3 linked regions of the Homo sapiens genome follow. Each later gene encodes a partner of the first gene's protein in a complex. Each region holds a gene or a part of one and is shown in the gene's direction. Other genes may lie near its edges.

Evidence for each region.
Region 2: SYNCRIP (region 1) and DHX9 share a complex: the UniProt entries of both Homo sapiens proteins name them as parts of the coding region determinant (CRD)-mediated complex.
Region 3: SYNCRIP (region 1) and IGF2BP1 share a complex: the UniProt entries of both Homo sapiens proteins name them as parts of the coding region determinant (CRD)-mediated complex.

What each region holds. Positions count from the first base shown.
Region 1 is NC_000006.12:85,615,287-85,619,113, reverse strand, and holds part of SYNCRIP (heterogeneous nuclear ribonucleoprotein Q), read left to right. Parts: intron 1-174; coding exon 175-296; intron 297-3,766; coding exon 3,767-3,827. UniProt on the Homo sapiens protein: Heterogenous nuclear ribonucleoprotein (hnRNP) implicated in mRNA processing mechanisms. Component of the CRD-mediated complex that promotes MYC mRNA stability.
Region 2 is NC_000001.11:182,856,268-182,860,094, forward strand, and holds part of DHX9 (ATP-dependent RNA helicase A), read left to right. Parts: intron 1-264; coding exon 265-311; intron 312-1,836; coding exon 1,837-1,973; intron 1,974-2,283; coding exon 2,284-2,373; intron 2,374-2,465; coding exon 2,466-2,627; intron 2,628-2,772; coding exon 2,773-2,850; intron 2,851-3,725; coding exon 3,726-3,827. UniProt on the Homo sapiens protein: Multifunctional ATP-dependent nucleic acid helicase that unwinds DNA and RNA in a 3' to 5' direction and that plays important roles in many processes, such as DNA replication, transcriptional activation, post-transcriptional RNA regulation, mRNA translation and RNA-mediated gene silencing.
Region 3 is NC_000017.11:49,035,385-49,038,984, forward strand, and holds part of IGF2BP1 (insulin-like growth factor 2 mRNA-binding protein 1), read left to right. Parts: intron 1-2,783; coding exon 2,784-3,065; intron 3,066-3,600. UniProt on the Homo sapiens protein: RNA-binding factor that recruits target transcripts to cytoplasmic protein-RNA complexes (mRNPs). This transcript 'caging' into mRNPs allows mRNA transport and transient storage.

The sequences.
Region 1 (3,827 bases):
TAAGTAAAAATGAAAAATAATTGAATATCTGCATCTTTAAATAAAATTATTTGACTGCCTGCATGGGGCTTTCTCTTGTCCTTCCCACATTAATGATAAATGATATTCCAACTTTAAATGAATCATAATTGTATGAAAGTCCTATTTTTATATTGACTTATCTAATTTTTTAAGGCTATGGAAGAAATGAATGGCAAAGACTTGGAGGGAGAAAATATTGAAATTGTTTTTGCCAAGCCACCAGATCAGAAAAGGAAAGAAAGAAAAGCTCAGAGGCAAGCAGCAAAAAATCAAATGTGAGTGAAATTTGTATACTTAAAAATTGTATAAATTTTAATATTTATACACTAATTGGAAAATAACAGGTGTTGATCAGACTTGTTAAATGCATAACATCTCTTTAAAGAAGACTTGAACGTTTGAGAGTCATAGGGAAACACCAGTGATCTAAGTGTTTATTGAACTCTTACTATGAACCATATTTGTGAAAATAATCAGAATTGTAAATAACTGGAATTTTGGTAAATTGGCAAGATGAAAAATCTGTCTAGCTTTTTTTTTGTTTTGTATTGGGTGACAGAGTCTCACTTTGTCACTCAGGCTGGAGTGCAGTGGCACTCTTTCGGCTCACTGGAACCTCCACCTCCCGGGTTCAAGAGATTCTCCTGCCTCAGTCTTCTGAGTAGCTGGGTTACAGGCGCCACCATGCCTGGTAATTTTTGTGTTTTTTTTTTTAGTAGGGGTGGGGTTTCGTCATGTTGGCCAGGTTGGTCTCAAACTCCTGACCTCAGGTGATCCGCCCACCTCTGCCTCCCAAAGTGCTGGGATTACAGCTGTGAGCCACCATGCCTGGCCTATCTCACATATTTTCTTTGTATTTTACAGAATGTTCTTCTGAAAATGTCTTAAATATTAGCTGTCCAAATATCTTAATACATTTTGTTAAAGGGTGGAGAGTTTTTTCTCTGAGAGATAGGAAATACTAAATCTCTATTCATGATAGACTGTTTCTTCACCAGTAGTGCTCATTGCCACCCCAAAAATTTCATGTTCGATGGATGGATTTTGAAAATGAAATGAGTATTAAAATTATAACACAGTAGTGCAATAAGAAAACAAGTAGGTGTGTAATGAGTTATACTAATTAGGGAGACCTTTTTAGAGAATCTGTAAATAGGTATCTGCTTAAGACTGAAGGAAACTTAGTTGGGTAAGAATTGAAGTTAGCTCCTAAAAAGTTAGTTACTGATTTCCTAGAAGAGGGGTAATTGTTCTTGAATGTGAGAGCAATAATCACTGTCAATACTATTCAAGGTTAATTTTCTGTTGATTGCCCTGTTTGGAATTTAAAGGAAGAGGATGCTTCTACATATTTCTGTTACTTCATAATCAGGGAATTGATCAAGTTCTAGTTTCTGCAGTTAATTGTCCAGTTGGACAAGTTGGCAAGCTCTGAACCTCAATTTCTTCAGTTCTAAAATGGGATCAGACAAAATTATGTAATAGCTCTGGATTATGTGATTATCCAAGTGACCCATGCTTGTTCTGGGACCAAAGAAAATATACTTTGTAGGTTTGATGATAGTGTAAATGAAGGAAGACTACAAAAAGAGTTAGTTTTAATGCTCTATATTTCAAACACCTGGATATACTAAACAGTGTAAAATAACTTCTTTTTATTTCTTTCAGAAGACGATATATGGTTAATTTATTAAAGTAGAATGTAAGTATAGGAGATTATATTAGATAATGTGATTAGAGCAGTTACATTTGGTACTTGATAGAGGGAGATACTAAATAGAAGGTGGAGGATGTCAGTATATCTGTTAATATTTGAAAAGGAGTACAAACTAAAAGGGATGATTGCATGTTACTTTCGTACTTTAACTTGCTACAGTCTTTTTTTTTTTTTTTTTAAGTTTTAACTAAGCACGTATTCCTACATAATTCTCACTGTATTCCTGTGAGTTAGGTACTCTATCCCTTAGTTTGAAATGAGGAAACTGAGGCTCAGAAGTCAACTTCCTTGGGGTCATTCACATAGTAAGTAGTGGAGTTGGATTTGAACTAAGGTAGTCTAGTCTCCCATAATTTTCCCTCTTAACCACTATACCAGGATTTCTCATCTCTGTCCTCCTGACATTTTGGGCTGGATAATTCTTGGTCTTGGGGGCTGCCCTGTGCGTTGTAGGACTTTTAGCAGCATCCTTGGCCTCTTCCTGCTAGATGCCAGTAGCACCCCCTTTCTCAGTTATGACCGTCTAAAATGTCCCCCTGGAAAGAGGTGGTGGCAAAATTATCCCTGGTGAGAACTATTTAGAAATAGAAAAGGATGATCTTTCCATCATTTCCTCAAAACAATAAACCAGCAGAGCACATAAAAGGTCTAAGGACCTAGTGAACCGGAATAACATTTTTACGTTAGTCAGTTGGAACAGGGGCCTTTAATAATTCAGGATAAAATAAGGCCGGGCGTGGTGGCTCATGCCTGTAATCCCACCACTTTGGGAGGCTGAGGTGGGCAGATCACTCTAGGCCGAGGTGGGTGGATCATTCGAGGTTAGGAGTTCGAGACCAGCCTGGCCAACATGGTGAAACCCCATCTCTACTAAAAATAAAAATTGGCTAGGTATGGTGGCACATGCCTATAGTCCCAGCTACTCGAGAGGCTGTGGCAGGAGAATCACTTGAACCCAGGAGGTGGAGGTTGCAGTGAGGTGAGATTGCGCCACTGCATTGCAGCCTGGGTGACAGAGCAAGACTGTGTCTCAAATAAATAAATAAATAAAATAACATAACAGGTACGGAATAAAAAACACGAGTAAATTATTCCTTCAAGAGGGATTAATTTCCATATTTCATGGGATTATTGGGCTCAAAATAATCACTAAGTTTTAAGGAATTGTATAAAATTGTACTGTAGGGAACATGAGTTGGAATATTGTAACTTCGTTTAGTCCTTTTACATAGTATGTAAGCATATGCTGATTTGTGTGGTTGCTTTCTAATCACTTTGACAACTAAAGTTATACCTGTTTAGTGGTTAAAGTTCAGCACTATAGTTACGGTGTAGTTTATTTTTGGGAAAGTAGCAGATCTTTTAAATTTTACTTGGATAGCATTATTGTAGAAACAGGAAAACTTTAAGGTCTTTATGCTAATTTACTGTAGTAAACTTTGAACTTCACACATTTTGGTTGTGTGCTTGTCCTACTTGCCATTTTGCTTTTGTAATAAATGTTCTTCAAGTATATTGGAATAGAATCTTAGCAGAAATGCAATTCAAAGTGACAAATTTTTTTTTGAGTCAGAGTCTCGCTCTGTCACCCAGGCTGGAGTGCAGTGATGTGACCTTGGCTTACTGCAGCCTCCGCCACCTGGGTTCAAGCGATTCACCTGCTTCACTCAGCCTCCCGCATAGCTGGGATTACAGGCATGACCGCTCCCAGCCCTAAAGTGGCAAATTTGACAGCTAAATCAATTGTAAAAATTCTGTAACAGGTTTATTGGGAGATTTTGAAGATCATGAAGAAATAAATAAGGTTCATAACTAGAGATTTGTGGTATTTTGGGATGCCTATATTGTCATCCTGATCCTCTGATCATTACTACTACTAAAACTTAATCTAGTACAAATAATTCTGTATTAAAGTTATGTGAATTATGCGAAGTAAACTCTGGATTTAAACTGTTACAAATGGCTAAATGCCTACTTGTTAACTAAGTAATTTGATTTAAACTCTAATCTCTGTCTCTTTTTTAATAGGTATGACGATTACTACTATTATGGTCCACCTCATATGCCCCCTCCAACAAGAGGTCGAGGG
Region 2 (3,827 bases), on another chromosome or scaffold:
TAAATATAAAATCTAATACCCTAACGTTTTCCTTTCATGAACAATTGGCTCATCAACTTTGATTATAGTTGTCTTATGCCATGTTGTATATTATTTGAAGTTTATATACTTCATTTGTTCTAGGGTTGGGCAGAAATAAATGTTGGTAATTTTTTTTTTCTGTGATTTGCCTAAGCAGTTGGAAAGCCTGCCTGACTTGGGAGACCTGGATTTGCTGGTTTCTAACAGTGAAATTTCTAACCTTGCTTGTATATGTTGTTACAGGAGCTTTATTGCAGAAATGACCATTTATATCAAGCAGCTGGGCAGAAGTAAGTGTTACTGTTTCCCCAATATTCCAAGTCTCTGTATAGAGAAGGAATCTTCACATTTTAAGTCTTGAGTCACGTATACAGAAGCTGTATTATTTGAAAGAGCACATAATGTAAGATAGCATCTAGGGTATATTTTAGAATATTAGTAATTATATAAATTAGAGGCAAAGTCTCCCAGTTTGCATGTGAAAACAGACCATGTTAGTGTAATCTTTCAAAGGTAAGACACAGTGGGATGATTAGGAGTCTGCCAGTGTCAATTAATTTTAAACCTTTTTTGTTTTTTGAGACGGAGTCTTGCTCTGTCGCCCAGGCTGGAGTGCAGTGGTGTGATCTCGGCTCACTGCAAGCTCCGCCTCCCAGGTTCACGCCATTCTCCTGCCTCAGCCTCCCCAGTAGCTGGGACTACAGGTGCTGCCACCAAGCCCGGCTGATTATTTTTTGTTTTTAGTGGAGACGGGGTTTCACCATGTTAGCAGATGGTCTCTATCTCCTGACCTAGTGATCTGCCTGGCTCAGCCTCCCAAAGTGCTGGGATTACAGGCGTGAGCCACTGTGCCTGGTCTTAAACATTTTTTCATTTTTATATATACAATGAGTTATTTTGAGTGGATGGATAATACTAAGGGAGAGAGGATAAAGGCAGGCTAACTTCTGTCAGCTCACTTACCTTATCGAGGTTAATTTGGCTAGTTAGGCAGAAAGATACCTTTGTACCCCTTTGCTTTATATTCATCTCTCCTAAGGATGAATGATACAGGAGGAGAGGAAACTTTCTGTTAATATTTTCTATAAGGATATGAGTAACTTAGCTTTAGTTTAATGCTAAGGTCAGCAAACTATAGCCCTCTGGCCAGATCCAGCGTACTGCCTGTTTTTATAAGAACTGTTTTATTGTAACATAGCTACACTCACATTTTAGACTTTACAGGTCACACATTGTTATTCTCATTTTATTTTTACAACTCTTGAAAAACGTAAAGCCATTCCCAGTCCTATGGTTTATCAAACTCTGTTGTCAGTGACTGCTTTCACACATTAAAGGCAGAGTTGAGTAGTTGTGACAAGATACTATATGGCCTGCAAAGCCTAAAATATTTATTAATTGACCGTTTATAGAAAAAGTTTCCCAAATCCTGGTCTAGGTAACCACTCTGGACCCAATTACTTTTACTGGTTTATTTTTTACTCTTTGTCTTTTCAAACTATGTTTTCTTCCCCATTTTAATGTCTGATATTAACAGTGACAACTTTGTTGAAATAGGTTATTTGCTTTCATAATATTGATTTGTATGAGTCCTAGTATCAGCCAGTAATCAAAACTGTTGGTTATTTAGTTGATAAGCTGTTTGGCAATTTCTTTTGTTTAGCAGATATTAATAGAATAAAAAGGAACTAGAAGCCATGGCATACCCTGTATTTTAGGGCTTCTTGTGTACGTAAGCCCATAGTTTCTTGTGATAAGATGTTTCTTTACTCAGATGATTTCTTTCTGTCTGATAATCCTGACCTTACATTATAGGGATTTTTGCACGAGAACATGGATCAAATAAGAAATTGGCAGCACAGTCCTGTGCCCTGTCACTTGTCAGACAACTGTACCATCTTGGAGTGGTTGAAGCTTACTCCGGACTTACAAAGAAGAAGGAAGGAGAGACAGTGAGTCTTTAGATTTAATAGACTTGTGAGATAGTGTGAGATTCAATTTAGCTCTTGTTTAGTGTTTGGCTGAAGAAGTTTAATTTTAAGAATCTTACCTCAGGAAATGAAAATGGCCCTGCTAATCATCTCTGTGTCTGGCATGATGTTCATAATAGGCAGTGAGTAAATAATCATTGAAGTAATTCTCTCACAAAAGGGAACTGACTATTGGTTTAGGAATATTGTAGACCTAGTGTTGACTGTATAGTCTTAGCCCCATTATAGTAGATTTGAGTAGTGTTGTTAATGTGTGATCCTTTTTCCATAGGTGGAGCCTTACAAAGTAAACCTCTCTCAAGATTTAGAGCATCAGCTGCAAAACATCATTCAAGAGCTAAATCTTGAGATTTTGCCCCCGGTAAGCATAAAGCTGTTTAGTTCACATTTACGTAGAACTCTCCGTAGACAAGCAAATCATATTTTTTGTTTGTTTTTCTTATTTTTTAATAGCCTGAAGATCCTTCTGTGCCAGTTGCACTCAACATTGGCAAATTGGCTCAGTTCGAACCATCTCAGCGACAAAACCAAGTGGGTGTGGTTCCTTGGTCACCTCCACAATCCAACTGGAATCCTTGGACTAGTAGCAACATTGATGAGGGGCCTCTGGCTTTTGTGAGTGCAATATTGTTTTTGAGATCAGAGTCTTGTGTTTTACTCTTGAGACTATATTTGATTAGTATGTCTAGGTAAAAAATGGATTTATTTTGAAGCTGAATTATGTGCTTTTGTTTGACTATGTTGGCTTTTTGTTTTACAGGCTACTCCAGAGCAAATAAGCATGGACCTCAAGAATGAATTGATGTACCAGTTGGAACAGGATCATGATTTGCAAGCAGTAAGTCTGAATTATTTAGACAAGTAGTGCTCAGAGCTTCAGAATGTTCTAGGTATGGGTAAAAAGTCAATGAGCAGTACATTTTGCCCTTTTAAGGAGGGCATATCAAAAGATATGTACCAAACTGCTAATCCTAGTTACCCCTGAAGTTAGTTGCTATGAGTTGAGGGCCTGTGAGAGAATTTCACTTCTTAATGTAATTTAATAAAAGTGGAGAGATTTAAGGCAGTGACTCCTTTTGTTGTTGGTTTTTTTGTTTGTTTTAGTGTTTTCCAAATAAAAAATTAAAATGTTAAAAAGAATGCGTGTGCGACTTTCAGGGACAATGAGAATTTAGTTTTTGGACAACATCAAAAGATACATTCTTCAGAAGTGTAGTGAAAAGAAGTAGTTCTATTAGAGATATAAATATACACATTCTTTTTTGAAAAAAACATTTTCATCACTAAGCCAATGGAAATGAGTAAGTTTTTATAGAGATGGAAGTTTGGTTTTTTTGTTTGTTTTTTTCTTGAGACAAAGTCTCGCTTAGTTGCCCAGGCTGGAGTACAGTGGCTCAGTCTCGGCTCACTGCACCCTCCGCCTCCTTGGTTCAAGCAATTCTCCTGCCTCAGCGTCCCAAGTAGGTGGGATTACAGGCACACCCCACCACACCTGGCTAATTTTTGTATTTTTAGTAGAGATGGGGTTTCACCATGTTGGCTAGGCTGGTCTCGAACTCCTCACCTCATGATCCTCAGCCTCCCAAAGTGCTGGGATTACAGGCGTGAGCCACCGCGCCCAGTCTATAGAGATGGAAGTTTTTTAAAGGATCAAGACAGTTGCTTCTAATGTGTTGGTAGACATTTGACTGAAGTGTGACTTTTCTAATGCAGATCTTGCAGGAGAGAGAGTTACTGCCTGTGAAGAAATTTGAAAGTGAGATTCTGGAAGCAATCAGCCAAAATTCAGTTGTCATTATTAGAGGGGCTACTGGA
Region 3 (3,600 bases), on another chromosome or scaffold:
GTCTAGACTAGGTTGTAAGTTTCCTGCTTCATATAGCTAGTGAGCAATAGAACTAAGATTGGAATACTGGTGTCCTAATTCAGTTATCTTTGCCCTGGGAGCCTGGGCAGATGCGGATGCGAGGTGCGCTGGGAGGTGGCAGCGGTCTGGGGCAGTGGCCTGCGGTGGGTAGGCTGGGACCTCGCAGTCTCCCCACACACATGTGGGGCCCCACCACATGGCGCCTCCCTGCGGGCGTGCACCTGCAGCGGTGGGGGTGGCTGGGGCACCTGGGAACGGGGATGCCTTGCCCTCCGAGGTCTCCCCTGGGCGGCCGCCCATGCCATTTTCCGGGCTGCTCGCCTTCTAGAAGTTCCTGCAGGAAGCTGGTGATGTGGCCTCCCTGACCCGGGCCCGCCCCCCACCACTTTGCTGGAGGGGTAGTCAGATTCCAGCCGGGATACGTAGCAGCAGCTTGGTGGCAGGCGATAGGAAAATGGGCAAAAGCCCCAACTGGCTGGAAGGCAACCCCGGGGGCCGGACCTCCTTGTGGGAGGGCCCGGGACTGCACTAGGCGGGAGTGGAGGCCGCGGCTCCAGGCTGGTCTCGGCCTGGTAATTTGACACGGCCAGCCGGTCACTGTTTAAGGCACTGTGTACCATTTTACTAACTTAATCCTCACGGTGACCGCATTTCCCAGCTGGGCCAACTGGTGCGGGGTTGACTGGAAGCGACCGGGGTTGACTGGAAGCGACCGGCATAGCGCTTGGCAAGTATATAGCAGGTAGTAAAATGGCTGTAATTTTGAAAGTTAGCTTTGTGAAGTGTTGGGGCTGCGGCATCTGCTGGTGGTGTGTGGTATTACAGCCCCGTGCTGGCGGACCCCATTGGGTTGGGGAGCGTTGCGAGATTGTGGCCCCAGAGCCAAGTGGGCAGTTAGGGGTCTCTGGAGACTCTGGAAGGAGAGGTAGCACAAAAGACAGCGGAGGTGTTCGCTTCGGCAGCACATATACTAAAATTGGAACGGTACAGAGATTAGCATGGCCCCTGCGCGAAGATGGCACGCAAATTTGTGAAGCGTTCCATCAAAAAAATAAAAAAATAAAAAATAATAAAAAAAAATGGGGGACTGCGGAGGAGCTAAAATTTCGAGACTGCATGTTTGTTTTTTTTTGTGCACCAGCAGCTCATTAGAAGAATTCCTCAATTGCTGCTTCAACACCCGCCACGATGGCGTTCAACCTGGCAGATTAATTTAACAACTCTCTGATGGGTTGCCCTGAAATTTGAAAAACAGTGCCTTGGGCTGGGCGCGATGGCTCACACCTGTAATCCCAGCATTTTGGGAGACCGAGGCGGGCGAATCACCTGAGGTCGGGAGTTGGAGACCAGCCTGACCAACATGGAGAAACCCCATCTCTACTAAAAATACAAAATTAGCGGGGCATGGTGGCGCATGCCTGTAATCCCAGCTACTCGGGAGGCTGAGGCTTGAACCCGGGAGGCGGAGGTTGCACTGAGCCGAGATCACGCCATTGCACTGCAGCCTGGGCAATGAGCAAAACTCTGTCTCAAGAAAAAAACAAAACAAAACAAAAAACAGTGGCTTAAGCAAAGGCCACAAGAAAGAATTGAGATCAAAGAGGAGTGTGTGCCATGGCTATGGAGGGGTTTCAGTTGTGAATTATGAAATGTCATGTAAACCATTTCAAGCATTTCAAGGAGTTTGAATTTTATATAAAAAACAATGGGAAGACGCTGCAAGTTTTGAAGCAGCATCTCAGACATGTTGAAAAAGATGTTTGGATCCCTAAAATAATGAGAGAAAAGGCCAGAGAGAGGTGTTCTGAACAACTTCAAGATTTTACCAAATGTTGCAAGAACTCTGGAACCCTTACGGTAGGAAAATGCTGGAAAGAAAATTCTCTATTGAAAGGACGTCTAACTGCTCACTATAATGATCCAGCCTTTTATGAAGAATGCAAAATGGAATACCTGAAGGAAGGAAGAATTCAGAAAAACTGGAATTTCTACAAAGAGAAGGCTACAGAAACTTCCCATAAGCCTGTAGGCAAATATTCAAATGATATTCAGGAACTCTAATATTCATGGAAGTCATTTATAGTATAAATTTCCTTAAATAATGGACTCAAGAATGTGTGTTTGCTTTATCCTAATTATGGAAATATTAATTTTTATCTGAAATAAAGATCTTTTATTTCAAAAACGAAAATAAACCCCACACTTCATTAGGGCAGGATTAACATTTGAATTCTACATGTATACATTTCAATCTCCTTTGACCTTGGTTTCATCATCTCTAAAGTTAGGAGTATGTAGTAGTTAGCAGTTGGTTTCCTCACCCTGTAGTAGGGATTCCTCAATCCGGGAAGTGTATGTGTTAGCTTTGTGGAGCCTCTTCAGGTCTGTGGTAGGCTTTCCAGTTGGCATGGGAGTACTTTGAGATCTATGGCTTGCTCTTCCTTTTTAGGCTAGCAGAACCCTATACTTTCTATTGGACTGGAAGCCCATTTCTCTGATGGTTCCAGTGGAAAGCCTTTGTGAACAATAAATCCCAACTAAGTGTTAGGGAACACTGTATTTATTTACTTTTCCTTTGAAGTCTTTGATGCCATTTAGACTGGAAAGTTGTGAAAAATGGAGGTGGAGGTAGTGGGCAGGTGACTATCTCCTTTTCTTTAGTGTGTTCCAAGCTGTAACTTACTAGAGTGCTTTGGCCAAGAGAGCATCTGGTATGATTGGCATGGATTGGAATGACCTGTAGACTCTCACTCTGTCCCCAGAGCCATCATGAAGCTGAATGGCCACCAGTTGGAGAACCATGCCCTGAAGGTCTCCTACATCCCCGATGAGCAGATAGCACAGGGACCTGAGAATGGGCGCCGAGGGGGCTTTGGCTCTCGGGGTCAGCCCCGCCAGGGCTCACCTGTGGCAGCGGGGGCCCCAGCCAAGCAGCAGCAAGTGGACATCCCCCTTCGGCTCCTGGTGCCCACCCAGTATGTGGGTGCCATTATTGGCAAGGAGGGGGCCACCATCCGCAACATCACAAAACAGACCCAGTCCAAGTGAGTCTTGGCTCTTGGGGAATGGAGGTTGGGTGCTAGGGAACAGTGGTTGGTACCTAAAGAGGCCTCCTGGAAGCATGCTGGAGACATCAACATTTACCTTTTAGGAAATGTTGCCTGGAGCATTCAGGGGTCCCTGCTTCCAATACCAGCCTCCTGGGAAAGGGAGGGCAGATAGGGAGGGAGAATGGGTCTGGGGTGCTAGGCCACACACTCGTATTAGCAAGAGAGATTCTATAATTTCTCATGTGAAGTTTCATAAAAAAAGTCTCCAAGCAAACCTCATTTTGATGAGTCAGCAACTCAGTGCTCTGTGATTTCATGATCACTTAGTGTGGTAACAGGGCTGGCCAACCTGTCCAAAATTAGGACCTTCATAATTGTGTCCCATCTCCCATTCTGCCACTGCCACCTTCTTTCTTTAATATTTTTTTTTTTTTTTTTTTGAGACAGAGTTTTGCTCTGTTGCCCAGGCTGGAGTGCAGTGGTGCGATCTCAGCTCACTGCAACCTCTGCCTCCCGGGTTCAAGCAATT